Homo sapiens: one gene and its partners. The protein of the gene in region 4 purifies or fractionates together with the protein of the main gene of each other region. This does not show direct contact. Each region holds a gene or a part of one and is shown on either strand. Other genes may lie near its edges.

The links.
Region 1: the proteins of NUP133 (region 4) and ZMYM2 fractionate together in Homo sapiens (co-fractionation; one large-scale study listed by BioGRID). This does not show direct contact.
Region 2: the proteins of NUP133 (region 4) and NUP88 fractionate together in Homo sapiens (co-fractionation; one large-scale study listed by BioGRID). This does not show direct contact.
Region 3: the proteins of NUP133 (region 4) and SIGLECL1 purify together in Homo sapiens (co-immunoprecipitation; one large-scale study listed by IntAct). This does not show direct contact.
Region 5: the proteins of NUP133 (region 4) and FCGRT purify together in Homo sapiens (affinity purification with mass spectrometry; one large-scale study listed by BioGRID and IntAct). This does not show direct contact.
Region 6: the proteins of NUP133 (region 4) and UXS1 purify together in Homo sapiens (co-immunoprecipitation; one large-scale study listed by IntAct). This does not show direct contact.
Region 7: the proteins of NUP133 (region 4) and RIC3 purify together in Homo sapiens (co-immunoprecipitation; one large-scale study listed by IntAct). This does not show direct contact.

What each region holds. Positions count from the first base shown.
Region 1 is NC_000013.11:20,063,207-20,067,679, reverse strand, and holds part of ZMYM2 (zinc finger MYM-type protein 2), read right to left. Parts: intron 3,230-4,473; coding exon 3,135-3,229; intron 830-3,134; coding exon 661-829; intron 442-660; coding exon 290-441; intron 1-289. UniProt on the Homo sapiens protein: Involved in the negative regulation of transcription.
Region 2 is NC_000017.11:5,386,140-5,389,277, forward strand, and holds part of NUP88 (nuclear pore complex protein Nup88), read right to left. Parts: intron 2,822-3,138; coding exon 2,663-2,821; intron 1,814-2,662; coding exon of another isoform or gene 1,766-1,813; coding exon 1,640-1,765; intron 1,532-1,639; coding exon 1,466-1,531; intron 1,328-1,465; coding exon 1,247-1,327; intron 972-1,246; coding exon 845-971; intron 688-844; coding exon 569-687; intron 202-568; exon of another isoform or gene 131-201; coding exon 67-130; 3' UTR 1-66. UniProt on the Homo sapiens protein: Component of nuclear pore complex.
Region 3 is NC_000019.10:51,253,631-51,258,103, forward strand, and holds part of SIGLECL1 (SIGLEC family-like protein 1), read left to right. Parts: intron 1-2,298; exon of another isoform or gene 2,299-2,402; intron 2,403-4,111; exon of another isoform or gene 4,112-4,270; intron 4,271-4,473.
Region 4 is NC_000001.11:229,483,649-229,488,121, forward strand, and holds part of NUP133 (nuclear pore complex protein Nup133), read right to left. Parts: intron 3,966-4,473; coding exon 3,818-3,965; intron 2,881-3,817; coding exon 2,723-2,880; intron 498-2,722; coding exon 406-497; intron 1-405. UniProt on the Homo sapiens protein: Involved in poly(A)+ RNA transport. Involved in nephrogenesis.
Region 5 is NC_000019.10:49,518,597-49,523,069, reverse strand, and holds part of FCGRT (IgG receptor FcRn large subunit p51 isoform 1 precursor), read right to left. Parts: intron 1,376-4,473; coding exon of another isoform or gene 1,257-1,375; intron 1-1,256. UniProt on the Homo sapiens protein: Cell surface receptor that transfers passive humoral immunity from the mother to the newborn. Binds to the Fc region of monomeric immunoglobulin gamma and mediates its selective uptake from milk.
Region 6 is NC_000002.12:106,141,824-106,146,296, forward strand, and holds part of UXS1 (UDP-glucuronic acid decarboxylase 1), read right to left. Parts: intron 3,653-4,473; exon of another isoform or gene 3,548-3,652; coding exon 3,367-3,547; intron 1-3,366. UniProt on the Homo sapiens protein: Catalyzes the NAD-dependent decarboxylation of UDP-glucuronic acid to UDP-xylose. Necessary for the biosynthesis of the core tetrasaccharide in glycosaminoglycan biosynthesis.
Region 7 is NC_000011.10:8,141,080-8,145,552, reverse strand, and holds part of RIC3 (protein RIC-3 isoform a precursor), read left to right. Parts: intron 1-4,473. UniProt on the Homo sapiens protein: Molecular chaperone which facilitates proper subunit assembly and surface trafficking of alpha-7 (CHRNA7) and alpha-8 (CHRNA8) nicotinic acetylcholine receptors.

The DNA of each region.
Region 1 (4,473 bases), on a different chromosome or scaffold from region 4:
AGACCTATTTACAGAGTTATGACATTTTTCTGTTTACATGTAGATCAGCATGGATCTATAGCCAGATGTGGCTACATATCATGCCTTATAATGTGAATTCACTTATCTGCAATGGGTAAGGAAAGAATGTCATCCTGATTATCATTTATATATAAATGGCAGCAAACATACAACTTTGTAGATGTGTTTCTTGGTAAGTCAATAAAGGTTCCATAATGCTACAGAAACAAGAACTACCACAACTTTTCTTATTAATGTTATACTTGAAAGCAGCCATCAAATTACTAACCTCCTGTATTCCAAGGCAAAGGTAATAGATGCTGTCAGGTGCATAATTCTCTCCATTTGGCCGTCGGATCTCATTGACAAAATGAGCTAACCCATAGTTAAGCTCAGCTGTGGTGTGAGAGAGTAGATCCTCTTTTAACTTTACTGATTTAGCTAAAAATACATAAAATAAAAAATAATTGTTATTATTTAGCGTCTTATTAAGGTTAAGAAACTTTCTGACGTTATTCTTTGTAAGAGCTCTGAAGTAAAATAAAATGCATTCTTACAGGTATTTTAAGTTACATTTATGTTTTTTAAATTTAAAGGTACTCAATAACAGAAATCTTGATTTTAAATAGGACTTAGGAGAAACAAAATTAAAACACTTACAAGATTTTAACTCATCTAATACCAGAAGATCTTCATCAAGTTGCCTAGTTTTGACCCAGTGTTTCCATGCATTTACGCCATACGTATATTTGAAAGGAAAGCTGCATTCTGAATTGTCAGAACTATCATCATGAGACTGGTATCCTGATACAGCCTTTCTCTTGGCTCCCTATTAGTAAAAAACACCATAATAATATCTTTTTTAAAGCCTACATTATTTCATTACTTTATACAAGCCATCTCTCAACAAAGGCAAATTACAATTGACCCTTGAGCAACATGGGTTTGAACTGCAGGGGTCCACTTGGACACGTATGTTTTTCTGTGTGCCTGCCTCTCCAACCTCCTTCTACCTCTTCCAATCGTGCCACCTGAGACAGCAAGATCAACCTCTCTCCTCTTCCTCCTCAGCCTACTCAACTTGAAGACAATGAGGATGATCTATTTCCACCTAATGAATCGTAAATATATTTTCTCTCCCATATGATTCTCTTGATAACATTTTCTCTAGCTAACTTTATTATAAAAATACAGTATGTAGCATATAAAATATGTGTTAATCAACTGTTATCAGCAAGGCTTCCAGTCAACAGTAGGCTACTAGTAGTTAGCTTTTTAGGGAGTCAAAAGTAATACATGAATTTTTGACTGTGCAGGGGGGCTCAGTGAAGAGTAGGCTACTAGTACTTAACTTTTTAGGGAGTCAAAAGTTATACACAAATTTGTGACTGTGCAGGGGGGATCAGAGCCCAACCACTGCATTGTACAACGGTCATCTGTAATTACAAATATAGTTATCTGTTTAATCTGTCATAAAAATATAGTTATTTGTTTAATGTGTCATGAAATTAGAAAAGAAAAAATGAAATATAGGTATTTGCTTTGAACTGACTGGTATTCCTGAATCTGACAACAGTCAATTAATATTCCAGGAAATGTGATGTTTCTACATAAATCACTTTGTGCAACAAAATCATATTAAATTCTGTGGTGAGAGTCACCAATGATGAGAAAATAAATATAAGACAATAAACTAATAATCTAAATATTACTGTAACAGAAACTGAAGAACTTTTCAACAACTCCACCTTATAGAGAGTGACACTTAAGTACTTTTCACTTTTTTATTTTATTGTTTTATTTTTGTTTTTTTAAGACAGGGCCTTGCTCTGTCACCCATGCTAGAGTTTTGTAATCACGGTATCTCCCCTGCCAGGTAAGTATCCATGCTGGAGTTCTGTTTTGAGGAGAGGTCTTGCTCTGTTGCCCAAGCTGGAGTGCAGTGGCACGATCATAGCTCACTGCAGCCTCGATCCTCCTCCTGGGTAGCTGGGACTGCAGGCACGTGCCACCATGCCTGGCTGGTTTTTATTTTTTAGTTTTTGTAGAGGTCTCACTATGTTGCCCAGGCTGGTCTCAAACTCTTGGGCTCCACCAATCTTCCCGCCTCAGCCTTCCTGAGTGCTGTAAGTGCTGGGATTACAGGTGCCACTGTGCCTGGCCCCCTTTTCACTTTCCTGATGGCACTGTTTGCAATGCAAAAGTTTTTAATTTTGATGTAGTCCAGTTTATTTATTTATTTTTCCTTTTCTTCCCTGTGCGTTTGGTATCTTACCTAAGAAACTGCCTAACATAAGGCCATTAAGATTTAGGCCTATGTTTTCTTCTAAGAGTTTTATATTGTTAGCTCTTACATTTAGGTCTATGGCTCATTTTGAGTTAATTGTTGTGTTTGGTGTCAAGCAGAAGTCCACCTTCATTCCACTCCAAGTATTCTCTCCCTTTTCCGGTTTTTTTTCTTTCTTTTGGGGACAATTTGTGAAAGCTATCTTTCTTAAGGTATTTTTAAAACCTGCTTTATGTTGGAAGTCAGAAACACAGAAAGTTGACAGAATATTATAACAATTACACTTGTTAATGCATGTAGATTTGGTCTACCTGAATGATCAAACTGTCCAGCATGTCTTTCTATGTGTGTTGGTATGCCTAAAAGAGACCAGAAATAATAAACTGTGTACTTCAACCCCACTGATCATCTCATCAGAAATAATCGTGGAAAAAACAGCTCCCTAGAAAACAGTCTAAATTTTTGTCAAATAATTGAACTTACTACTTTAGCAACTGTTTTCTATTTTGACCTTGTATCAATACAAGTTTAGTTGAGGTATCAACTAAATCTGAGATATTTTTATTACTTAGAAACAGTAATAAATTATTACTAGAAATAAATTATTACTACTATTATTACTAGAAATAGTAATAATTACTATTTCTATACAAATAGAAATAGTAATAAATAATAGTAATAAATAGCAGTAATATATTATTACTATATTCTATATAAATAGAAAATAAATTATTTTCCAACCTAGAAAACAAAATATGTTCCCATATTCTCAGGCACACTAAAAGAACACTGTATCCTTGTTTGCCTATAGAGAAATATTGTTATATAGGCTATTAAGTGAATGTACCTTTTTTTTAGATCGAGGTCTGGGCTGTTCCTCATATTCTTCGCCAAAAACAGGTGGTAATAAAAATTCATTTTCCATATCAAGCTCCTCAGCAGCTGACAACCAAATCAGAACTTTTATTTTAAATGAAATAGCACAGGGTTACATAAACACAGCCAACAAAGAACTAACCACAGGATGTAAACCAGCATTCATACATGGGGACAATCTAGGCTGGGCTGGGGAGTAAATGACTCATTGTACCTAACATGGTTTGTGAATTCTGACAAACACTGTTCAAACTCCTAAAAACATATATAAAATGAATATCAACATAAAATTTTCATGAAAATGTATGATACCAGAAAAATTATTATAGTCTGAAATCCAATTACAAGATCTAAATGGTCTTGGTACAAATCTGATTCAATCTATTAAATGTTTTTTCCAAAAACTAATGTTTTACATTCTACTCAGTGTGCTCATTAGCCATCCATGGATTAAGAAAATAATGAAAAATGGGGCACACTTATTTTACAAAAGACCTGAAAATAATTTTTCCTTTGAAGGTGAACTTAATTTTCAAAGGATCTTAAAAAAAAGCTAACTATATATATTATATATATAAAAACTATATAATATATATAAAATATATATTATATATAAAATTATATTTATATTATATATTGTATATATTTATATATTATATACATCATGATGTATATAATATATAAAATTATATTTATGTATTATATATATTATATATTTTTTATATATATATATTTTTTGAGACAGAGTTTTGCTCTTGTTGCCTAGGTTGGAGTGCAATGGTGCAGTCTTGGCTCACTGCAACCTCCGCCTCCTGAGTTCAAGCAATTCTGCCTCAGCCTCCCCAGTAGCTGGGATTACAGGCACTCACCACCACGCCCAGCTAATTTTTGTATTTTCAGTAGAGACGGGGTTTCACGACGTTGGCCAGGCTGGTCTCAAACTCCTGACCTCAGGTGATCCACCCACCTCGGCCTCCCAAAGTGCTGGGATTACAGGCATAAGCCACCGCACCCAGATGCTAACAACATTTTTAAATTAAAAAGGACACAAACACTTCTTTAAACTTTCTATAATGAATTACTTCTAGAATTTTTTTTTTTTTTTTTTTTTTTAAAGACAGGGTCTCACTCTGCTGCCCAAGCTGGAGTGCAGTAGCACAATCTCGGCTCACTGCAACCTCTACCTCCTGGGCTCAAGCAATCCTCCTGCCTCAGCCTCCCGAGTAGCTGGGATTACAGGCATGCACCACCACGCCTGGCTAATTTTTATATTTTTAGTAGAGACAGTGTTTCACCACATTGCCCAGGCT
Region 2 (3,138 bases), on a different chromosome or scaffold from region 4:
GTTTTACAATATGGGTTTAAGCCTTCAATGGTGTTCAGTTCAGGTGTGAGTCAGCTCCTGGTGGTGTCAGAAGTTTACATGATTGCGGATATCATTGATTTGCTTCACCATTTCCCTTATATGTTCACCCCTGTAAAATTGTAAAGTCACTCACTTTTGGAATTATAATAAACCATTTATATGGATTCTTAAGAATTTAAACTGGTAATGTTGAAACATCTAAGAACTGCTTTGCTAAAATTAACAGCTGAAGGTTTCAGGTGGATAGCAATAGTGTTCACTATTCATTTAAGGTGGCAAACGGTGCAAGTACTGGAAATATTTTTGAACATAATTACTGTAAAATACCTTTGGCCACACAACAAAATCATGTTACTAGAAGGTCATCCCTTTCAATCCTCCCACCATAGTCATTTCTTAAGTCCCTATGTATCATGTGGCTCTCATCCCAGTAATTACTTGACATGCAAATACCAAGATTCAGGTTTCTATTAAGACAGGTTGATTCTGGCATACTGTAAAGGAAAAACTATCTCACGATAATAGCTGATTGGAAGTATTTACTTACTCCTCTTTCAGGATGGACTGAATGCACTTTCGCTGGTAGGCACTGAGAATAATGGTGGGTTTTGGAAGACTCAACACCTTCTCCATCTTTTGCTGTTGATAATCCTTTTTCATAGTAACCTTAAGTATTAAAATAATAGATATTTTGGCAGTGGTTTGCCACACATTTTCACAGTATCTATTTGAATCTGTTCTTTTTACATTTTTGTAAAATTTTCTGTAGAATAAGTGCTTTAAGAAAAATTACCAAATTTAGCTAGTTTGGATCTATTCCTACCTGTTTGATGGCATTGCCCAAATGTCGAAGTTGATCAGGTATCAGCTGTAATTCTTTCTTCATGTCTCGCTCACTATCAGAGAGAACTGGGAGCTCAGAGTGAAAACTGTGAAGTAGTTTTTTCATCCTTTAGAAAAGGCAAGCAAACATCTCAATTTAAGGTCTCTACTAATTAGGAGAAACATAATCACAAGCTCATAATTCATGAATCTGGTGTTTCTGAAGTAGGCCCCATAGGAAGGGTTAGGGGAGAGCCTCATGTTTTCCCCAACATATACTTCAGAGGAGAGGCAGGGGGATCAGTTCAGTTCCGTAGGTATGTAAGCACCTGCCAATGCCCATTTTCTTAAATATCGTTGTTAGTACCTGACTAGGTAACTAAATGTTATACAGCCCACTGACCTGTTCATGATATCCTCTTGTTTTTCTTTAGCTTCCTCATATTTGTCAGCTAAACGCTCAGCCATTTCCCGCAGACTTTTCCTAATGATGTAAGACACAAGAGACTCTTGAGGTCCACCCCTTGATGCTGAAACCACCTAATGTGGCTCAGCATCTTAGGGTGAGAATATGGTTCCAGTCTTACTGACCTATTGTATTCTTCTTATTTTTGACACTTACCTCTCTTCTCGACAATAACTGAGATCTTCTAGTTGTTTCTTTTTTTGGTCACATAATAATTTGACCCTTTAAAAACAAAAAGAAATAGAGTTTATTCAGAAGCCAGGTCTAGGCTACCATACAGCATCAGCTACCAGCCAGGGATCGATGGTTTGTGAACACAGGACATCATACCTCCGCTGAATCTCCTCCTTTGCCAAGTCCTGTTTGAGAATGTACTGCTCTCTGAACACCTGGGTGGCTCTGCTGAGGAGCTGAAGGCATTCTTCAGGAGGAGGGGCTATGTCCTTTTCAGAAGCTCTTAAAAACAAAGTTTCTACCTTTATTTTCCTTAGCTGAGTAAAACAACTGAAAATAAATAGACTCAAGTCACAGGTGCTTTTTAAACTTTTTATATTTTTAATTTATTTATTTGAGATGCAGTCTCGCTCTGTCACCCAGGCTGGAGTGCATTGGTGCTATCTCGGCTCACTGCAACCTCCACCTCCCAGGTTCGAGCAATTCTTCTGCCTCAGCCTCTCGAGTAGCTGGGATTACAGGTGCCCACCACCACGCCTGGCTAATTATTGCATTTTTAGTAGAGACAGGGTTTCACCATGTTGGCCGGGCTGGTTTTGAACTCCTGACCTTAGGTGATCCGCCTGCCTGGGCCTCCCAAAGTGCTGGGATTACAGCTGTAAGCCACCGTGCCCAGCCTAACTTGAGACGAGTCTCACTGTCGCCCAGGCTGGAGTGCAGTGGTGGGATCTCAGCTCACTGCAACCTCTGCCTCCCAGGTTCAAGCGGTTCTCCTGCCTCAGCCTCCCAAGTAGCTGGGATTACAGGCATCTGCCACCACACCCAGCTAATTTTTTTTTGTATTTTTAGTAGAGATGGGGTTTTGCTGTGTTAGCCAGGATGGTCTCGATCTCCTGACCTCGCGATTCACCCGTCTTGGTCTCCCAAAGTGCTGAGATTACAGGTGTGAGCCACCACGCCCGGCCTAGCCTAACTTCTTTTTAAACACTTCCTGTTTATCATTCTCAGGTGCCACTTCCCTCCTGCTCCCCATTCACTAGCTGATCAAATATATCCAGTTTCTTCCAAATTTATCACAGTAAAAAGTATATGAAACAGATGAGGACAGAAAGGATGCACAGTAATTCTGAAGACAGAAGAGAACCCATTCATAAAACCGCTATGCCCAAGGTTGCATACTTCAAAAATGCTGGATTGGCAACACTACGTTGCAAAATGCTTCTAATATGCTTTTCAAAGGAATCTGGGGTTTCAGCCAGAACACGGAGGGGAGACTCTGCCACTTCAACATCTTCTCGAGTACAAAGCAGGGGAGGAGACGCTGGATGGACTGTACTTCTGCAAAATAAGTAAGTAAATTGAATTCTACCATGGAGTGATTTACTGTATTACAGGAAAGCAGAAACCACATTAATCCAGAACTTTCAGAATATAAAATAAAGTGTAACTTTTGTAAAAGTGCAAGAATGCATGTTTTCCACCTTGAAAAGGTCACTTTGGGAAGCTACACCCTTATTATTCCAATGCCCCTGATTTGTGAAAGCATTTCTGACTGCCATTTCCAGTTCTTTTCTAAAAGATCAAGGCAGCACAAACACCTAGCATGGATTCTTGGCAAAGGACTTGAAAGCCAGTTTATAAGCCGGAGCCACAAA
Region 3 (4,473 bases), on a different chromosome or scaffold from region 4:
AGTATACTGTGTGTCACATCAGGGCTAGCTGATTTATTCTTATATTTTATTCATGAGGAAGTGAATTTGGAGAGGAGAATGAACTTCACCATGCTTATACAGCAGTTTTTAAGGCAAAATAGAATCATGAAAAAGACACCACAGTTGTAGTCAAAGGTTGAGTCTGAAATCTATGAACGTAACGGCTGCATGTCTTGGGGCCAGTCATAGTACTTTTGTGGATCTCTGCCTTCCTTTTGGAAGTGTTGATAATGAGATGTACCTCACAGAGTTGTTGAGACTAAGATAAAAGATAAAATTTCTACGTCTCTAGAGTTGTAAATGGCAACCATAGTTTCTCATTAGATGTTAACCAAAAAAGTAGTTAACAGTCATGGCATGATTCAGTCATTCCCAATTGATTCACAGCAGGGCACAGTGGCTCATGCCTGTAATCCTAGCACTTTGGGAGGCTGAGGCGGGAGAATTGCTTAAGCCCAGGAGTTCAAAACCAGCCTGGGCAATATAGCAAGACTCGACTCTCTCTCTACAGAAAATATTTTTTTTAAATGAATTGGGTCTAGTAGTGTGCCCTTAAAGTCCCAGCTACTCGAGAGACTGATGTGGGAGGACTACTTGAGCTCAGGAGTTCGAGGCTGTAGATAGCTGTGATTGTACCACTGCACACCAGCCAGGGTGACAGGGTGAGACTCCATCTCTTTAAAAAAAAAAAAAAAAGGATTGATTCACAGTATCCAAATAGTAGAAACAACCCAAATGCCATCAACTGATGAATGGATAAACAAAATGTGGTCTATCCATACAATGGAATATTATTCAACGATAACAATGAAAGGAGTACTGATATCTGGTACAACATGAATTAGCCTTGAAAGCATGCTAAATGAAAGAAGCCAGACACAAAAGACCACATATTATATCATTTCATTTATATACAATGTCCAGAATAGGCAAATTTATAATTACGGAAAATAGATTAGTGGTTGCCTACAACTAGGGGGTGGAGTTGGGGTTTGGGGAAACGGGGAGTAAATGTTAATAGATATTGGTGTTTTTAGGGAGGTGATGAAAGTGCTCTGGAATTAGGTAATGGTGATGTCTGCATATCTTTATGAATATACTAAAACTCCTAAATTGTGTGCACTTTAAAATGGTGAATTTATGGTATATGAATTATAGCTCAATAAAAATAAAAAAATTAATTATAAAAAGGTTAGCTACCAGTAGACCCATGGCTAAATAAAAACCTGAAAATTTTAGGGAAAACTAGATACTCACATGGAAATTGGACACTTAGTTTATACCAAATACAAAAATAAACTCAAAATGGGTTAAAGACTTAAATATAGCCAGGCGCAGTGGCTCACGCCTGTAATCCCAGCACTTTGGGAGGCCAGGGAGGGTGGATCACTTGATGCCAGGAGTTTGAGACCAGTCTGGCCAACATGGTGAAACCCTGTCTCTACTAAAAATACAAAAGTTAGCCAGGCATGGTGGAGCACGCCTGTAATCCCAGCTACTCAGGAGGCTGAGGCACAAGAATCGCTTGCACCCAGGAGATGGAGGTTGCAGTGAGCCAAGATCATGCCACTGCACTCCAGCCTGGGCAACAGAGTGGGGACCCTGTCTCAAGAAAAAAAAAAAAAAAGACTTAAATATAAGAACTGAGATTGTAAAACTACTAAAAGAAAACATCGGAGAAAACTTCTGTATATTTATATGTAATACACAATAAAAATTATTGGTTTGGGAAATAGTTATTTGGATATTTCTGCAAAAACACAGGAAACAAAAGCAAAAATTGACATGCAAGATTGCAGCAAAGTAGTTTCTGAACAGCAAAGGAAACAATCAACAGAGTGAAGAGACAACCTACAGAATGGGAGAAAATATTTGCAAAGCATCCATCTAATAAGGGGCTAATATCCAAAATACATAAGGAACTCAAACAACTCAATAGCAAAAAAATCAAATAACCCAATTAAAAAATGGGCAAGGACCTGAATAGGCATTTCATAAAAGAAGACATACCAAAATGGCCAACAAGTATATAAAAAAAATGCCTGACATCACTAATCATCAGAGAAATGCAAATTCAAACCACAGATATCACCTTATACCTATTAGATGGGTATATCAAGAAGGCAAAAGATAGCAAGTGTTGATGAGGATGTGGGGAAAAGTAAACCTTGTACACTGTTGGTGGAAATGTAAATTGGTATAACCACTATGGAAAATAGTATAGAGTATCCTTTAAAAATTAAAAATAGAACTACCATATGATTCAGGAATCCCACTTCTAGGCATGTATTTGACAGAAATGAACTCAGTATCTTGAAGAGATATCTGCACTCCTGTGTTCATTGCAGCATTATTCACCATAGCCCACACGTGGAATCAACGTAAGTGTCCATTAATAGATGAGTAAAGAAAATATTATATATGTATACACACATGCACGCACACACACACACACACCCCATTCAAATAATGTCATTTTGTTCAACATTGTCTAATCATAAGAGAAAAAAATCAATTCCCAGCCAGTACCAGTATCTGTGTGGAGTTTGCATGTTCTTATATATGGTAAAATTGGTTTCATTTTACATCATTTCACTTAAAGCAGCAGTTTCCAAGAACTGAATGATGATGTTAAGTGAGGATTTATTGTGCACACACACATACACACACAGTGGAAGTTATTCAGCCTTAAAAAAGGACATCTTGCCATTTGCAGCAACGTAAATAAACCTGAAAGACATTATGCTATGTGAAACAAGTCAGACACAGAAAGACAAGTACTGCATGATCTCACTTATATGTAGAATCTAAGAAAGTCAAACGCATGGAAGCAAAGTATAGAATGGTGGTTGCCAGGGCTGAGGGCTAAGGGAAATGAGATATTGATCAAGGGGCACAAAGTTTCAGCTAGGCAGAATGAATAAGTTCTGGAGGTTTCATGTGCACCATGGTGACTATGGTAAATAACACTGTACTGTATACTTGAAATTTTGTGACAGTAAATATTAAGTGTTCTCACCACCAAAAAAATGGTAACTGTGAAGTGCTGATTATGTTAATTCACTGGATTGTGGTAATCATTCCACAGTGCATACATACATCAAAACGTCATGTCGTACACCTTAAGTATATACAATTTTTATTTGTCAGTTATACCTCAATAAACCTGGAATTAAAAAACTGAAAATTCTATAATCTCATCTCTGATCACTGCTCTAACCATAGGTAAGCACTGGTATCAAATTATACATCATTCTAGATCTTTGTTTTACTCATTCATGTATGTATAGTTTTGAGTGTATTATATATGAATATGTAGATACATATTTACATATTATATATATAAAGCTTTTATATAAATGACAAATGATCCAGTTTTCATTTAAAGATTGTGAAATATTTCAGACATATAGAAAGATATAAATATGGTATAATGAGCATATACCCACCACCAGCTTAATATTGAAAACACTGGCTGGGCACGGTAGCTCACACCTGTAATCCTAGCACTTTAGGAAGCCCAGGTGGGAGGACGGCTTGAGCCTAGGAGTTCAAGACCAGCCTGGGCAACATAACAAGATCCCATCTCTACATAAATTAAAAAATTAGTCAGGCATGGTGGCACATGCTTGTAGTCCCAGCTACTTGGGAGGCTGAGGTGGGAAGATTGCTTGAGCCTGGGAGGTCAAGCCTGCAGTGAACTGTGAATGCTCCGTTGCACTCCATCCAGTCTGGGTGACAGAGCAAGAAACTGTCTCAAAAAAAAAAAAAAGAAAAGAAAAGAAAGAAAACACTACCCCTGGTATACTCCCTTCCCCAAACACATCTCCCACTCTCAAACATAGAGATCGCTGCTATTCTGAATTTGACATTTTATTCTGTGTACTAAGGAACTTAACCTTGCCTGAAGAGAAGTCTGGCCTTTGCCCTTGGCTTCTGGAAGACACTCCCTAGCTCTTAGAATGTCACACCTCATAGGGGTGTCTTTGTTTGCCCAGGGACCTTGCATCACACTGAATATTCTAGAAATGTGATTTAGGATGAGGGCTGGCCACACCAGATAATGTTAACAATGTGATTTAGAGTGGAAGCAATACCAGATAGTCTAACAATGTGATTTAGAATAGGGGCTTTGGATCAAATGGTATCAGCTCAACTTCAGGAGGAGCTGGATGCTAAGATCCACCATGAGGGAAGTCACCATGTTACACGATGGAGGCCCAATAAAAACACTGGACACAAGGCTTGGGTGAGCTTCTTTAGTTGACAGTACTATGCATATTGTCACACATTATCACCAGGAAAGCTAAGTTATGCTGTCCATGACTCCACAGGGAGAGGATAACTAGAAGCTTTGTGTGGGGAACTTCTGGCCTCTGCCCTGTATGTCTTCCCTTGGCTGATTTTAATCTCTATCCTTTAGTTGTAGTAAACAGTAATCACGAGTATAAC
Region 4 (4,473 bases):
GAGCCAAGATCGCGCCACTGCACTCTAGCCTGGGCGACGGAGTGTCTCAAAAAAAAAAAAAAAAAAAAAAAAACTTTGTAAGCAACTTATTTGCACCTTAACGTTATACGTAAAAGACCCTTGCAAGATGTCTTCATGATCACCATTTTTAATGGTACATTGTTTTTCATGAAGTGGAGAGAGTATGTTAGAGCCCATGTTTTTTCCCTAACCTAGCTAGCTGGAACCCTCCCATGGCTACTAAGTTCAGAAGAACAGTTTATTAAAGTGCTAAAGCTCAAAAAAACATTCTCCTCTTGATAGCATCATTCCTCCAACTTGCTCCCACCAGTCAATAAGTAGCACATGTCAGTAAAACATATCCTCACACATAAAATAATCCATAATTTAAAAAACATGTTATACCTGCAGTATTGCAGAAAGGCAGCTTTCAGCAACTTGATTTTATCTTCCTGGGCTATAGTTTCATTCTTTGTAGTGGTCTCAAAAATCATACTCTGCAAAATAACAAAGTATAGTTTAGAGGTAAAGGCATCTGAATATTCTTAATTATTGGACTAAAAACTGCACCCATCCTATGATAGCAACTCCGCATATACACGAGCTGTTTGCCGTATTGTCTGTACCAGGGGTGTCCAATCTTTTGGCTTCCTTGGGCCACACTGGAAGAATCGTCTTGGCCCACACATAAAATACACTAACATTAATGATAGCTGATGAGTTAAAAAAAAAAAAATTTATGTTTCAAGCAAGTTTACGAATTTGTGTTGGGCTGCATTCAAAGCCATCCTGGGCCGCATGCAGCCCATGGGTTGTGGGTTGGACAAGCTTGGTCCATACCAATTATTCATATACTTATTGAAACACTATAAATAGCATCAAATGATCAACCAAAGTCATACAGAAAAGGTACAGGTAATTCAGGGATTATGTTGTAAGTAAAATAATTTGGACATTTCATCATAATTAACAGAATCTTTTTATAGGTTTGCTCTTACACGACTCATCACAGTGTATACTACCTAAGCATAATGGTTGATTACAAATTTAAACAACGGTTTAGAAAAATTTTAAAGAAATGGAATACTATAAAATTGCTTCAGAATGTATAACAGTATTATAATAACCATACAATTACAAAATAGATATTAATCCTTTTTTGTAATCGTATTAATTACAAAATACAAGGTATTTTGTACTTTGTATAATTTTGTATAATTACAAAATACAAAATGCAAGGTATTAATCCCTTTTGTGAAAAGAAAAAAAAGTTAAAAATTGTTTCTTTCCTTTAAAACTACACTTAATCACTTTAATTTGAATTACAGAGGTAGTCTATATATTTCATACACTATTCAAATGGAAATTACCCCAAACAGTATTAATTATTTTTAGTCTTCTGTAAAAGAATGATAAAAATCTTATGGATAGGATATTTCAGGTTTCAAGACAACAGAATAAAATTGGTAATTTTTACCTGGCTATTCCTCTCAAAAAATCATCCCAGAATAAAAAGAAACAGAAATACAAGCTCCTTGGAAATATCTGTGATACTAACTACAACAAAGGAAGATAGAAAGCAGAAGGAATGGGAAATGGCCCCGCTGACAGGAGATGAGGCCACCTATGCATGGTGCAGAGGACAGGTCCTGAGGATTTGAGGACAATAGAAAAGGGAAGTTCTGGGATGACAGCTGTGCAGATGGAAGGTTTCTGGAGACTTGACTTTGGGAAAAACTACATTGAGGGGCACTCTACAGAACTCCTGGAGTGTGTAAAAAGATTAAGTCACATATGAAAGGAAAGTGAGAAAATACAAAACGAGGTCATTATACACTCCAAGAGTCACACAAAGTTCTATAATAAAGGACATGTAATCAGTATTTGGGATCAGCAAACCATAAACAATATTTACATTGTCATTACAATGAAAAAAATTTATGTTAGAATGATAAAGGCAGAGGAAGGAGTATAAGGTAACCCAAAACCTCATTTTCTGTAGTAGAAAATCAACAGATGCATCAGGAGACAGGAATATATGTACATTACTTAGATATATGGAGAAAAATACCAGAATAAATCACTAAAAGGCTTAAATGTAGTTGCTCCAGGCAAAGAGGACAGAAGGGATGAGGAAGATAAAAAGAACTAATGTCTGCATCATTACGTCTTTGAAAACTGTCTCAGTTTTGAGACCATTTGTATAAAATAATCTGATAAAACTAAAAATTAGGCTGGGCATGGTGGCTCCACGCCAGTAATCCCAGCACTTTGGGAGGCCGAGGCGGGAGGATTCTTGAGCCCAGGAGTTTGAGACCAGCCTAGGCAACATAAGGAGATCCTGTCTCTACAAAAAATAAAAAATTAGCCAGGTGAGATGGCGCATGTCTGTAGTCCCAGCTATTTAGGAAGTTAAGAGGGGAGGACTGCTTGATCCCGGGAGGTTGAGGTGAGGCTGCAGTGAGCTATGATTATGCCACTGCACTCTAGCCTGGGCAACAGAGTGAGACTCTGTCTCAAAAACCAAACCAAACCAAAAAACAAAAAATTAGCCAGGCACCTACTGGGAAGTCTGAGGCAGGAGGATTGCTTGAGGCCAGGAGTTTGGGGCTGCAATGAACTACGACTGTGCCACTGCACTCTAGCCTGGGTGACAGCGTGAGACACTATCTCTAAAAAATAAATAACATAAAAACTTCAAATTCTTATCGAATCACATTACCTCACTGTTTGGTCCAGCAACTGAAGATGCTAAAGACCCTTCCAAGTCTTCTGCCAATATAGACACATTTTCCCTTGAAGTAATAGACACCAGTCCACTGTTTCTAGAAAAAATGATAGGAACACCACCACAGGCACCAGCACCTAAAACACTATCTCCTAAAAGAAAGGAAAACAGAGTCAAATACATCTAACAATAACAACAAAATGCTATGTAAAAGCTACCACCCTAAGCAGAAAATCATCTTGATGATATATTAAGCACATTTTTTCCTTTACAACATTAGTCCTACTTCGAACTCATCCTTTACATCCCAGAATCAAATGCTAAGAACCGGTTGCTATCTGAAGAAGCAGGCTCTGTGTCTTTCAGCTTTAAGGACAATAAAAACTAGCCTTGCCAGACAGCAGTCAGTCTAGTAAGCCAAAAAAGAAAATTATTCCTTCTGCAAAACTCAGAAGAAGAGCTTTTTCAATCCTGTGGAGTTCTCTTAATTCTGACTTTAACTTACCACATCAGTCAATGGGGACTGGAAAAAAAAAAAAAAAAAAAAGGTCTAAGCCTACCTGGCACCTTAGTAACATCCTACCCACCCTCTGTCAAGGTTCTTGTGCTGGGACTAGAAAACCTGGGTTCCATGCTGTTGCCTACCTGCACTCTGTCCTCTGCCCAACCCCTTCAGCTAAGTATCTGCTTGGTTCTTCTTCAATCCTGACCAGCCCCCCTGCATAAGTCCAGCACCTGAAGCTCTTCTTATCTAGGGGTGTGGAAAAGTTAAAGCATCAACTCAGAATATGTCACTTTTACTAACTAGGAATAAGCAATTACTTCTCTTGGCAATAGTTTTTTGCTTCTTGGCATCTTCTCCTGGAACAAATGTTACTATCTTTGTCTGTAAATATAATAGTTTGGAAATTCTAGTACCCTTTTGGTTTCTTAGTAGGGTTATGGCTTCAGCTGCTGTAGTTGTGGTATGAAATGTCTCAGAAACATTTGAAAGCAGCATGCTTGAAGTGACATTCAGGGAAAGAGAAAAAAAGCACTCAGAATGACTAATGAGCTCACCAATCATGCTTTCTAAAACTGCTACTGTACCTTGTGCATTAAAGACAATTTTCTCCTGGGGAAGAGAAAATTTCCCAGTTCCTGTGGAGCACACATAGACAGCACTTTCGTTATACAGATAGGCAGTCTGGTTTGAAAAGTTTGGGACCGTCAACTGACACAAAATCAGGTCTTCAGACTGAAAGTTAAATTTAAGATTACATTTAACAAGAAGTAAAACAAAAATATTTGTATGATTTTTTAAATTCATTTTTGTACATTATTTCATAAAAATATTTCACCAATTCTCTTTGTAAAAATCTGAACACTACCCATGAGATGATTAACAAAACATGACAGAGTAAGTTTATAAACATCAATTAGACATATATTTTGTTGACTTGCTTATAATTTGCTTTTTTAATTTTTTTTTTTTTTTTTTTTTTTGAGACAGAGTCCCACTCTGTTGCCCAGGCTGGAGGGTAGTGGTGCAATCTTGGCTCTCTGCAACCTCTGCTTCCCAGGCTCAAACAATTCTCCTGCCTCAGCCTCCTAAGTAGCTGGGATTACAGGTGCATGCTACCATGCCCGGCTAATTTTTTTGTATCTTTAGTAGAGATGGGGTTTCACCATGTTGGCCAGGCTGGTCTTGAACTCCTGACCTCAGGTGATCCACCCACCTCAGCCTCCCAAAGTGCTGGGATTAC
Region 5 (4,473 bases), on a different chromosome or scaffold from region 4:
CGCGGTGGCTCACGCCTGTAATCCCAGCACTTTGGGAGGCCGAGGCAGGCGGATCACGAGGTCAGGAGATTGAGACTATCCCGGCTAACACGGTGAAACCCCATCTCTACTAAAAATACAAAAAATTAGCCGGGCGTGGTGGCCGGCGCCTGTAGTCCCAGCCACTTGGGAGGCTGAGGCAGGAGAATGGCGTGAACCCGGGAGGCGGAGCTTGCAGTGAGCCGAGATTGCGCCACTGCACTCCAGCCTGGGTGACAGAGCGAGACTCCATCTCAAAAAAAAAAAAAAAAAAAAAAAAAGAGAGCTTAAGGCCAATGTCTCTCATAAATATAGATTCAGGACAGGTGTGGTGGCTCACACCTAGAATCCTGGCGCTTTGGGGGGTGGAGGCAGGAGGATCACGAGGTCAGGAGGTCGAGACCAGCCTGACCAACATGGTGAAATCCCATCTCTACTAAAAATACAAAAAAATTAGCCAGGCATGGTGGCGTGTACCTGTAATCCCAGCTACTCAGGAGGCTAAGGCAGGAGAATCGCTTGAACCCAGAAGGCGGAGGTTGCATTGAGCCAAGATTGCACCATTGCACTCCAGCCTGGGCGACAGAGCAAGACTGTCTCAAAAAAAATAAAAAATTAAAAATTTTAAAAAATTTAAAAAAAGATTCAGAACTCTTAAACATAATATTAGCAGACAGGCTGGGTGCAGTGGCTCACTCCTACAATCCCAGCGCTTTGGGAGAATGAGGTGGATCACTTGAACCCAGGAGTTGGAGACCAGCCTGGGCAAACAGTAAGACGTAGTCTCCACTACAAATAAAAAAAATTAGCCAGTGTGGTGGATGTGCCTGTGGTCCCACCTACTCTGGAGACTGAGGCAGGAGGAATCCTTGAGCCCAGGAGTTTGAGGCTGGAGTGAGTTATGATCACACCTGGGTATAGCCACTGCACTCCAGCCTGGGCGACAGAGCAAGACTCCGTCTAAAAAAAAAAAAAAAAATTCATAAACTTTATAAAATGTATAAATTGAAGTCGATAAACTGAACTTCACTGAAATTAAGAATTTTTGTTCATCCAAAGGTTTCGTTAAGGGAATGAAAAAAGGTTGGGTGCAGTGGTTCATGCCTGTAATCCCAGCACTTTGGGAAGCTGAGGCAGGAGGATCACTGGAAGCCGGGAGTTCAAGACCAGCCTGGGCAACATGGAGAAACCCCGTCTCTGAAAAAGTTTAAAAATTAACTACGTGTGATGGTACACACCTGTGGCCCCATCCATTCAGGAAGGGTAAGGTGGGAGGATCGCTTGAGCTTGGGAGGTTGAGGCTGCAGTGAACTCTAATCCCGCTACTGCACTCCAGTCTAGGCAACAGTGCAAGTGCCTGTCTCAAAGAAAAAAAAAAAAAAAAGCCGGGTGCAATGGCTCATGCCTGCAATTCCAGCACTTGGGAGGTCAAGGCAGAAGGATCCTTACGCCCAGGCTTTCTTTTCCTTTTTTTTTTTTTTTTTTTGAGACGGAGTCTCTGTCGCCCAGGCTGGAGTACAGTGGCACAATCTTGGGTCACTGCAACCTCCGCCTCCTGGGGTCAAGCGATTCTCCTGCCTCAGCCTCCAGAGTAGCTGGGATTACAGGCGCACACCACCACGCCCAGCTAATTTTTCTATTTTTAGTAGAAACAGGGTTTCACCATATTGGCCAGGCTGGTCTTGAACTCCTGACCTCGTGATCCGCCTGCCTCAGCCTCCCAAAGTGCTGGGATTACAGGCGTGAGTCACTGTGCCCGGCCAAGCCCAGGACTTCTAGACCAGCCTTGGCAACAAATACCCCATCTCTACAAAAAATAGAAAATGTTAGCCAGGCATGGTGACGTGTACCTATAGTCCCAGCTACTTGTAAGGCTGAGGCGGGAGGATCTCTTGAGCTTGGGAGTCCAAGGCTACATGGCGCTATGACTGTGCCACTGCACTCCACTCCAGTCTGGGCGACAGAGCAAGATCCCAGCTCAAAAAAGAAAATAAAAGGCAAAGATTTCAGCAACTGCCTAGGACTGGGCATTACTGCCCAAGTTCCTTTCAGGGAGGGTGGATCTGGGCAATCGTGGGTCTTGGCTGGGATCTTGGTTTTGGTTGCTCAGCAGAAAACACATTTGCTGCTTCAGGAAAGCACAGCAGCTTCTCCCTCCTGGAGCTGCCTCTCTGGCAAGTCGGCAGAATTTGCTGCACCGTCAGGTGGAATGGAGGGACCGGGCTGACGGCCATCAGCAGTTCTGGCTTCTGCTTTATGTTCACTATTCTTTTCAGCAAATCTGTATCTTCCTGTGTCGTGCTCACAGCCACGTGCCTTCAGCCTCAAGGTACTTCCAATATAGACTAAATCCAAGCACAGAAAATCTGTCTGGCCTTTGGTTCTGTTTAACAAAATACCAAACCAGGTCAGGCATGGTGGCTCACGTCTGTAACCCCAGCACTTTGGGAGGCTGAGGCAGGCAGATCACCTGATGTCAGGAGTTCAAGACCAGCTTCGCCAACATGGTGAAACTCCATCTCTACTAAACATATAAAAATTAGCTAGGCATGGCAGCGCATGCCTGTAGTCCCAGCTACCCTGGAGGCTGAGGCAGGAGGATCACTTGAATCCAGGAGGCGGAGGTTGCAGTGAGCTGAGATCATGCCATTGTACTCCAGCCTGCGCAATAAGAGTGAAACTCCATCTCAAAAAAAAAAAAAAAATCCATCCTGGCCAACATGGTGAAACCCTGTCTGTACTAAAAATACAAAAATTAGCTGGGTGTGGTGGTGTGTGCCTGTAATTCCAGCTACTAAGGAGGCTGAGGCAGGAGGATCACTTGAACCTGGGAGGTGGAGGTTGCAGTGAGCCGAGATCGTGCTACTGCACTCCAGCCTGGTGACAGAGGGAGACGCCCTCTCAAAAAAAAAAAAAAAAAAGCCCGGGCGCGGTGGCTCACGCCTGTAATCCCAGCACTTTGGGAGGCCGAGGCAAGTGGATCACAAGGTCAGGAGTTCAAGACCAGCCTGCCCAACATAGTGAAACCCCATCTCTCCAAAAAAAATACAAAAATTAGCCAGGCATGGTGGCACGCACCTGTAATCCCAGCTACTCAGGAGGCTGAGGCAGCAGAATCGCTTGAACCTGGGAGGCGGAGGTTGCAGTGAGCCAAGATCGCAACACTGCACTCCAGCCTGGGCGACAGAGCAAGACTCCATCTCAAAAAAAAAAAAAAAAAAAAAAGATTAAGGCAATGGCCATTGCTATCCGCTAAAACCATCAGGAGAAAACCTGACAAAGAACTTCATAACAACACCCGAATCCAGTGGTCCACAGAACAGCACAGAAGCAAGCAGATGTTTGCAGCCTATGCACACAGACATACGCACCAACTACCCAGAAAGTTTTCTTGCCATAAAAATTGAACCAGAATCTGACCAAGCTTCTAGATGGAGCTGCTCCTTTAAAGAAGAGAAGGAGGACTATTTCCAGCAACATCACAGGATGCAAAGGGCAAAATCCAGTCTAGGAGAAACTCAATAGGACATAAACTGACTTTCTTCAAACCACAATTACAGGGGGAAAAAAAACAAAAAGAAAATGGGAAACCTGTAAATCAAAAGACACTCAAGATCACAAGTAACTCAAATTACCTGAAAATGAATCACAGACCTAACTGTAAAATGCAAAACTTTAAAACTCTTAAAATACACAGGAGAAGATCTAGCTGACTTTGGGTTTGGTGATTACTTCTGAGATTAAACACCAAAAGCATAATCCACGATAGAAAAAAAAAAAAGAATAAACTGGATTTCATCAAAGTTAAAAACTTTTGCTTTGTGAAAGGCACAGTTAAAACAATGAAAAGACAACCTAGAGAGTGGAAGAAATATTTGCAAAACACCTATCTGGTAAAAAATTGGAATCCGGCCGGGCGCGGTGGCTCAAGCCTGTAATCCCAGTACTTTGGGAGGCTGAGGCAGGCGGATCAGGAGGTCAGGAGATCGAGACCATCCTGCCTAACACAGTGAAACTCTGTCTCTACTAAAAATACAAAAAATTAGCCGGGCGTGGTGGTGGGCGCCTGTAGTCCCAGCCACTCGGGAGGCTGAGGCAGGAGAATTGGTGCAACTTGGGAGGTGGAGGTTGCAATGAGCTGAGATCGCGCCACTGCACCCCAGCCTGGGTGACAGAGCGAGACTCCGTCTCCAAAAAAAAGAAAAAAACAAAAATACGGCCGAGCGCGGTGGCTCACGCCTGTAATCCCAGCACTTTGGGAGGCCGAGGTGGGTGGATCACCTGGGGTCGGGAGTTCGAAACCAGCCTGGCCAACATGGTGAAACTCTGTCTCTACTAAAGATACAAAAAATTAGCAGGGCGTGGTGGCTTGCGCCTGTAATCCCAGCTACTTGGGACGCTGAGGCAGGAGAATTGCTTGAACCCGGGAGGCAGAAGTTGCAGTGAGCCGAGTTC
Region 6 (4,473 bases), on a different chromosome or scaffold from region 4:
AAAAATCACATTTAGGAAAACAACTGGATGTTAGCTTCAGTGTTTTTTTTTTGGTTTTTTTTTTTGAGATGAGGTCTTATTCTGTCACCCAGGCTGGAGTGCAACGGCACTATCTTGGCTCACTGCAACCTCCACATTCTGGGTTCTAGCGATTCTCATGCCTCAGCCTCCTGAATAGCTGCGACCACAGACATGCACAAGCATGCCCAGCTAACTTTTTGTATTTTTGGTAGAGACTGGGTTTCACCGCGTTGCCCAGGCTGGACTGAAACTCCTGAGCTCAAATGATCCACCCTCCTTGGCCTCCCAAAGTGCTGGGATTATAGGTGTGAGCCACCATGCCCAGCCAACTTCCTCAACAGTTTATAGAAAGATTAAAAATAATTTTCTATTTGCTTTGTAAAATACCTTTCTATATTTTCTTTAACATGTATGTATTATTTTCATCATCAGGAAAAAAGTTTCTTTTGAAAAGAGAAAAATATTTCAGATTCTCTTCCATCTCATTCTTTATCAAATATATAAACAAGAAACCTAATTCTTTCATTTAGTTCAAAGTATGTTTAATCTCTCTTGAGATTTTTCCTTTGTCTCATATCTTATGTAGAAGTTTGTTGTTTCATCACTAAATATTTTTGTAATTTTCCAGATATCTTTCTGTTACTAATTTCTAGTGTAATTCCACTCTGGTCTGAGAGGACACTTTATAGCACTCTATTCTTTCAGGTTGGCTGAGGTGTCTTTTATGGCTGAGAATATGATCAGTCTTGGAGAATGTTCCATGTGGGCTTCAAAGGAAGGTGCATTCTGGCATTGTTGGATGAAGTGGGCATTGTGAGGGCAGAAAGAGTGAAGAGATGGAGGGCAGCAAGGGGGAAATTATCAAGGGCACAGAAGACCTGATGCCAAGGTTGAGGACCCGCTGAAGGAGAAAGTGAAAAACAGGCTTCAAACCACAGAGGCAGAGAAGCATCTTATGCTCTCCCAACATAAATGCCAACTGAGGGAACGCAATACTCTGAGCAAAGGACAAAGCACCAGTCATTTATTGTATGACTTCATTCAATGTGTGGGTGTGTGGGTGTGTGTGTTTGCATGTATGTGTGTGTGTGTGTGTGTGTGTCCTACACACAGTCACAGAATTGGCAGAAATGGCCTAGAGCAGCTTTGGTATCAAAGCTCGCAGTTAAAGAAGATAATTTACTTATTAAAACACCATTTTTACTAAGTTCTGGCTTCTCAGTGGTACTGAAATTATATAAACAATAGTGTCATAAAATAAATGTTTCTTGCCATGTGCTAAAAAAGAGAAGAGAGTAGTAATATTAATAGGTATCATTTGGGGGAGGTCAAGGTGGGCGGATCATGAGGGCAGGAGATGGAGACCATCCTGGCTAACAGGGTGAAACCCCGTCTCTACTAAAAAATACAAAAAATCAGCCCAGCATGGTGGCAAGTGCCTGTAGTCCCAGCTACTCAGGAGGCTGAGGCAGGAGAATGGCGTGAACCCGGGAGGCAGAGCTTGCAATGAGCTGAGATCGTGCCACTGCACTCCAGCCTGGGCAACAGAGAGAGACTCCGTCTCAAAAAAAAAAAAAAAAAAAAAAAAAAAAAAGGTATAATTTGGGCAGCACTTAGTGAAATGAGGGCCCAGTGCTGTGCTAAGTCCTCACAGTAGTTTTCTATTGCTGCCTAATCAAATTTAGAGGCTCAAAAAATATCCATTCACGATCCGATCTGACAGGTCTACAGGACCGGGCACAGTATGGCTCAGCTGGTTCTCAGCTCTGCCTGCCCCCAGGCAGAAATCAAGGTGTCAGCAGGGCTGTGTTCCTTTCTTCAGAGGATGATTCAGGATGACAGCAAAATTCAGTTCCCTGAGGCTGCAGGACTGAGGTCTCCTTACAGGCTCTCAGCAGGGAGCCATTCTCAGCTTCCAGAGGCTGCCAACACTCTCCCGCACATGGCTCCTTCAAAGCCAGCCAGGGTAGGTCAGGTCCCTTGCACACTGCAAACCTCTCCAGCTTCCCTTCTGCCTGGTCTCCCCGCGGTATCTCTTCTACCCAGTCTCTCTACCTGACTCTTCCATTCTCTGTTGCTGCCTTTGACGGTTCATGTGACTATGTGGGGGCACACCCAGATAATCCAGGATCATCCTCATTTTAAAGCCAGCTGGTTCATAACCTTGATTCTATCAGCAAAGTCCTGTGACAGCACCACCTAGCATCTTGGGTTGAACAATGGGAAAGGGCATCTTAGCAGGGAACTGTGAGAATCTGCTTGCCAGGCCCTGTCACATGTATGACCTCAGTTAACCCCACAGCAATCCCAGGAGGAAATCCAAGAGGAAAGTGAGCCCACTGAGCTATAATCTACATAGCCTGTTATACTTTACAAAAACTACAGCTTCACTCCAAAATGAATCCTAAACAGATTACATAATTAAACGTTTAAAAATGAAGCAAAAAACCAACCAACAAAATTAACACCATGGCTGCTTTCTAAATATTAGATTAAATATTCATCTCATCTTGGAACGGTTAGAGCAGAAAGAGAACAGAAGAAACAGCAAGAAGAATATGAACAGATGAAACTATGTTATAAAATGTCACTCAAACGAAAAGGCAAAAACTTTTTGCCTTTGTGGGAAAAATGCTAAATACAAGCCCAACAGTTAACATTCCTATTACAAAGAACTCATACTAAAAGAATATTTTTAAAATGGACTAACAAAACCATTGGTATTTCTCTGGTGAATTAACATGTTAAATTCTAACCATATTTAGTAACCAAAGAAATGTACATTGAACCAATGGTTTTCTATCAAATTAGCAAGATCAAGGGGTTGGCAGATTGGGTGCTGGTGAGGACCTGCTTCCTGGTTCATATATGCATCTTCTCGCCACGTCCTCACACGGTGGAAAGGCCAACGGGGTTTTCCCAGGCCTCTTTTATAAAAACACTAATCTCATTTGTGACGACTCTGTCTCCATGAACTCATCACCTCCAAAGGCCCCACCTCCTAATACCATCACTGTGGGGCTTGGGATGCCAACATATGAATTTGGGGTGACACCAACATTCAGACCACAGCAGATGTGTACTACAGGAAAGTTACTTCAACAGGTCCATGAAGTTCAGGACCAGGGGTGCCACGTAGGAGAGAAGACGGCTATTCACACTGTTATAACCACTCGTTATCACACAGACTAGGACGGCACCTCATACATATTGAGACATTTCAAAAATAAAACCCAACATAGCTTTCAATGTGCTGAGTCAAACAGCTTACCCTCAGGAATCCCGCAGCTCTGGCAAGGCCACCTGCGGAGCTCTGAATAATAACAATGTGCAGTTTTCACTCACCCTCGATGTAGAGGGGCTCCACCACGTCGTGGTTAATCAACTCGAAGTTCTCATGTCCGATCCAGTGCTCCACGTTTCTCTTCCTGCCCGTGAAGAAATTGTCCACCACGGTCACCTCGTGGCCGTCCATCATGAGTTTGTCAGTTAGATGGGAGCCCACGAACCCTGCGCCTCCTGTTATCTGCATCCGGACAGCGTGTGCAGAGCATTCCCAGAAAAAGCACATGAGAACACAGTGAGGACCAGCTCCACGGAGAGACATCTCTGGTGCAGCCACGACTTAAAACTCAGGAGCAAGGCGGGGAAGGAAGACAGCAAAGGTTTTAAGGTAGCATCTTGACTCTTACTGCAGAACAAAGAGGTCATACTATCTGTAAACTCCTAAGCAGCCTAAAATTTCAAACTACCAGTCTTGGAAGAATACAGAAAAATCATAGTTACAAATTTCAAAATGTCTTTGCTGACTGAGAATTTCCCATTAGTCAAAGGTTCTTGTTTTATAACAAATGGGATGCTGGACATAGCTCACGTGGCTTTAATATTACTGCTGAGAACTTTAAAAATTACTTTATAGAAAAAACGATTAGCAAAATGCAGAGATTTGGTGAACTACCAAGAAAAAAAAACTTAATATTTAAGTTAGATTCAAAAACTGCAGGAAAAACAAATATCTTTTAAATTGTTTATGAGAACAAATTAATAAGCAATACATGCTGTTTGTAGACTAAAGCCCTAAACGCCTAAGTCCACTGTGTGGTTAATTTCTGAATGGTGATGTGAACCCAGTGTGGTATACACTCCCAGCCACAGAGCACGATGAGGCAGCTGTGAGGGGTCTTGACGGTAACTCAGTAATAACAAAACCTAGACCCCTGCAAAGGTGAAAAGTCAACTGCGCTTGAAAAATACTTTTAAGTTGAACACAGGTATTTTATTCAAATTAAATGGTGTAACTGGAGGAGGATAAAGGGAATTTCATCTGGGGGAAGGTTATAGGCGGTGGGAGTGAAAAGAATAGGCTCAGAAAACAGACGTGCCATGCACAACTCAATTCTCTAGCCTGCTGTATCCTGTTCTCCACTCTGCCTTCTCTTCACCAAAATTCTC
Region 7 (4,473 bases), on a different chromosome or scaffold from region 4:
CTATAGCTGATTGGAAAGAGATGTATACCTACCCAAGCTGAGTACTTAAAGTCCTCCTCCAAGGAATTTGAAATTAGGATGTCTCAGCTAGCCTGTTGAAGAACATGCAAATTGAGGGGCTGGGGCGACCATCTTCCCCTGTGTGCACAAAGGAGCTAGAGAAATGGTCTGCAGAGAAAGAATAAAGAAGATGTGCACAGAAAAACAAAGAAAAAACCTTATGGCCCCATAGAGAAGGAGAGAGATTGAGCTAGAATGTGAAAGTACCTGTCCTGGATCCTGATGGCTTTCCAGTTTCTAGTTCTCTTTTCTCCTGAGACCACATTGTATTTTCTTTCTTTTTTTTTTTTAATTTTTTTTTAATTTTTTTTTATTATACTTTAAGTTTTAGGGTACATGTGCACATTGTGCAGGTTAGTTACATATGTATACATGTGCCATGCTGGTGCGCTGCACCCACTAACTCGTCATCTAGCATTAGGTATATCTCCCAATGCTATCCCTCCCCCCTCCCCCCACCCCACCACAGTCCCCAGAGTGTGATATTCCCCTTCCTGTGTCCATGTGATCTCATTGTTCAATTCCCACCTATGAGTGAGAATATGCGGTGTTTGGTTTTTTGTTCTTGCGATAGTTTACTGAGAATGATGATTTCCAATTTCATCCATGTCCCTACAAAGGACATGAACTCTTCATTTTTTATGGCTGCATAGTATTCCATGGTATATATGTGCCACATTTTCTTAATCTAGTCTATCATTGTTGGACATTTGGGTTGGTTCCAAGTCTTTGCTATTGTGAATAATGCCGCAATAAACATACGTGTGCATGTGTCTTTATAGCAGCATAATTTATAGTCCTTTGGGTATATACCCAGTAATGGGATGGCTAGGTCAAATGGTATTTCTAGTTCTAGATCCCTGAGGAATCACCACACTGACTTCCACAATGGTTGAACTAGTTTACAGTCCCACCAACAGTGTAAAAGTGTTCCTATTTCTCCACATCCTCTCCAGCACCTGTTGTTTCCTGACTTTTTAATGATTGCCATTCTAACTGGTGTGAGATGGTATCTCATTGTGGTTTTGATTTGCATTTCTCTGATGGCCAGTGATGATGAGCATTTTTTCATGTGTTTTTTGGCTGCATAAATGTCTTCTTTTGAGAAGTGTCTGTTCATGTCCTTCACCCACTTTTTGATGGGGTTGTTTGTTTTTTTCTTGTAAATTTGTTTGAGTTCATCGTAGATTCTGGATATTAGCCCTTTGTCAGATGAGTAGGTTGCGAAAATTTTCTCCCATTTTGTAGGTTGCCTGTTCACTCTGATGGTAGTTTCTTTTGCTGTGCAGAAGCTCTTTAGTTTCATTAGATCCCATTTGACAATTTTGTCTTTTGTTGCCATCGCTTTTGGTGTTCTGGACATGAAGTCCTTGCCCATGCCTGTGTCCTGAATGGTAATGCCTAGGTTTTCTTCTAGGGTTTTTATGGTTTTAGGTCTAAGGTTTAAGGCTTTAATCCATCTTGAATTGATTTTTGTATAAGGTGTAAGGAAGGGATCCAGTTTCAGCTTTCTACATATGGCTAGCCAGTTATCCCAGCACCATTTATTAAATAGGGAATCCTTTCCCCATTGCTTGTTTTTCTCAGGTTTGTCAAAGGTCTGATCGTTGTAGATATGCGGCGTTATTTCTGAGGGCTCTGTTCTGTTCCATTGATCTATATCTCTGTTTTGGTACCAGTACCATGCTGTTTTGGTTACTGTAGCCTTGTAGTATAGTTTGAAGTCAGGTAGCATGATGCCTCCAGCTTTGTTCTTTTGGCTTAGGATTGCCTTGGCGATGCGGGCTCTTTTTTGGTTCCATATGAACTTTAAAGTAGTTTTTTCCAATTCTGTGAAGAAAGTCATTGGTAGCTTTATGGGGATGGCATTGAATCTGTAAATTACCTTGGGCAGTATGGCCATTTTCACGATACTGATTCTTCCTACCCATGAGCATGGAATGTTCTTCCGTTTGTTTGTATCCTCTTTTATTTCCTTGAGCAGTGGTTTGTAGTTCTCCTTGAAGAGGTCCTTCACATCCCTTGTAAGTTGGATTCCTAGGTATTTTATTCTCTTTGAAGCAATTGTGAATGGGAGTTCACTCATGATTTGACTCTCTGTTTGTCTGTTATTGGTGTATAAGAATGCTTGTGATTTTTGTACATTGATTTTGTATCCTGAGACTTTGCTGAAGTTGCTTATCAGCTTAAGGAGATTTTGGGCTGAGACAATGGGGTTTTCTAGATATACAGTCATGTCGTCTGCAAACAGAGACAATTTGACTTCCTCTTTTCCTAATTGAATACCCTTTATTTCCTTCTCCTGCCTAATTGCCCTGGCCAGAACTTCCAACACTATGTTGAATAGGAGTGGTGAGAGAGGGCATCCCTGTCTTGTGCCAGTTTTCAAAGGGAATGCTTCCAGTTTTTGCCCATTCAGTATGATATTGGCTATGGGTTTGTCATAGATAGATCTTATTATTTTGAAATACGTCCCATCAATACCTAATTTATTGAGAGTTTTTAGCATGAAGGGTTGTTGAATTTTGTCAAAGGCTTTTTCTGCATCTATTGAGATAATCCTGTGGTTTTTGTCTTTGGCTCTGTTTATATGCTGGATTACATTTATTGATTTGCGTATATTGAACCAGCCTTGCATCCCAGGGATGAAGCCCACTTGATCATGGTGGATAAGCTTTTTGATGTGCTGCTGGATTCGTTTTGCCAGTATTTTATTGAGGATTTTTGCATCAATGTTCATCAAGGATATTGGTCTAAAATTCTCTTTTTTGGTTGTGTCTCTGCCCGGCTTTGGTATCAGAATGATGCTGGCCTCATAAAATGAGTTAGGGAGGATTCCCTCTTTTTCTATTGATTGGAGTAGTTTCAGAAGGAATGGTACCAGTTCCTCCTTGTACCTCTGATAGAATTCGGCTGTGAATCCATCTGGTCCTGGACTCTTTTTGGTTGGTAAACTATTGATTATTGCCACAATTTCAGCTCCTGTTACTGGTCTATTCAGAGATTCAACTTCTTCCTGGTTTAGTCTTGGGAGAGTGTATGTGTTGAGGAATTTATCCATTTCTTCTAGATTTTCTAGTTTTTTTGCGTAGAGGTGTTTGTAGTATTCTCTGATGGTAGTTTGTATTTCTGTGGGATAGGTGGTGATATCCCCTTTATCATTTTTTATTGTGTCTATTTGATTCTTCTCTCTTTTTTTCTTTATTAGTGTTGCTAGCGGTCTATCAATTTTGTTGATCCTTTCAAAAAACCAGCTCCTGGATTCATTAATTTTTTGAAGGGTTTTTTGTGTCTCTATTTCCTTCAGTTCTGCTCTGATTTTAGTTATTTCTTGCCTTCTGCTAGCTTTTGAATGTGTTTGCTCTTGCTTTTCTAGTTCTTTTAATTGTGATGTTAGGGTGTCAATTTTGGATCTTTCCTGCTTTCTCCTGTGGGCATTTAGTGCTATAAATTTCCCTCTACACACTGCTTTGAATGCGTCCCAGAGATTCTGGTATGTTGTGTCTTTGTTCTCGTTGGTTTCAAAGAACATCTTTATTTCTGCCTTCGTTTCGTTATGTATCCAGTAGTCATTCAGGAGCAGGTTGTTCAGTTTCCATGTAGTTGAGCGGTTTTGAGTGAGATTCTTAATCCTGAGTTCTAGTTTGATTGCACTGTGGTCTGAGAGAGTTTGTTATAATCTCTGTTCTTTTACATTTGCTGAGGAGAGCTTTACTTCCAAGTATGTGGTCAATTTTGGAATAGTTGTGGTGTGGTGCTGAAAAAAATGTATATTCTGTTGATTTGGGGTGGAGAGTTCTGTAGGTGTCTATTAGGTCCACTTGGTGCAGAGCTGAGTTCAATTCCTGGGTATCCTTGTTGACTTTCTGTCTCGTTGATCTGTCTAATGTTGACAGTGGGGTGTTAAAGTCTCCCATTATTAATGTGTGGGAGTCTAAGTCTCTTTGTAGGTCACTCAGGACTTGCTTTATGAATCTGGGTGCTCCTGTATTGGGTGCATATATATTTAGGATAGTTAGCTCCTCTTGTTGAATTGATCCTTTACCATTATGTAATGGCCTTCTTTGTCTCTTTTGATCTTGTTGGTTTAAAGTCTGTTTTATCAGAAACTAGGACTGCAACCCCTGCCTTTTTTTATTTTCCATTTGCTTGGTAGATCTTCCTCCATCCTTTTATTTTGAGCCTATGTGTGTCTCTGCACGTGAGATGGGTTTCCTGAATACAGCACACTGTTGGGTCTTGACTTTATCCAATTTGCCAGTCTGTGTATTTTAATTGGAGCATTTAGTCCATTTACATTTAAAGTTAGTATTGTTATGTGTGAATTTGATCCTGTCATTATGATGTTAGCTGGTGATTTTGCTCGTTAGTTGATGCAGTTTCTTCCTAGTCTCGATGGTCTTTACATTTTGG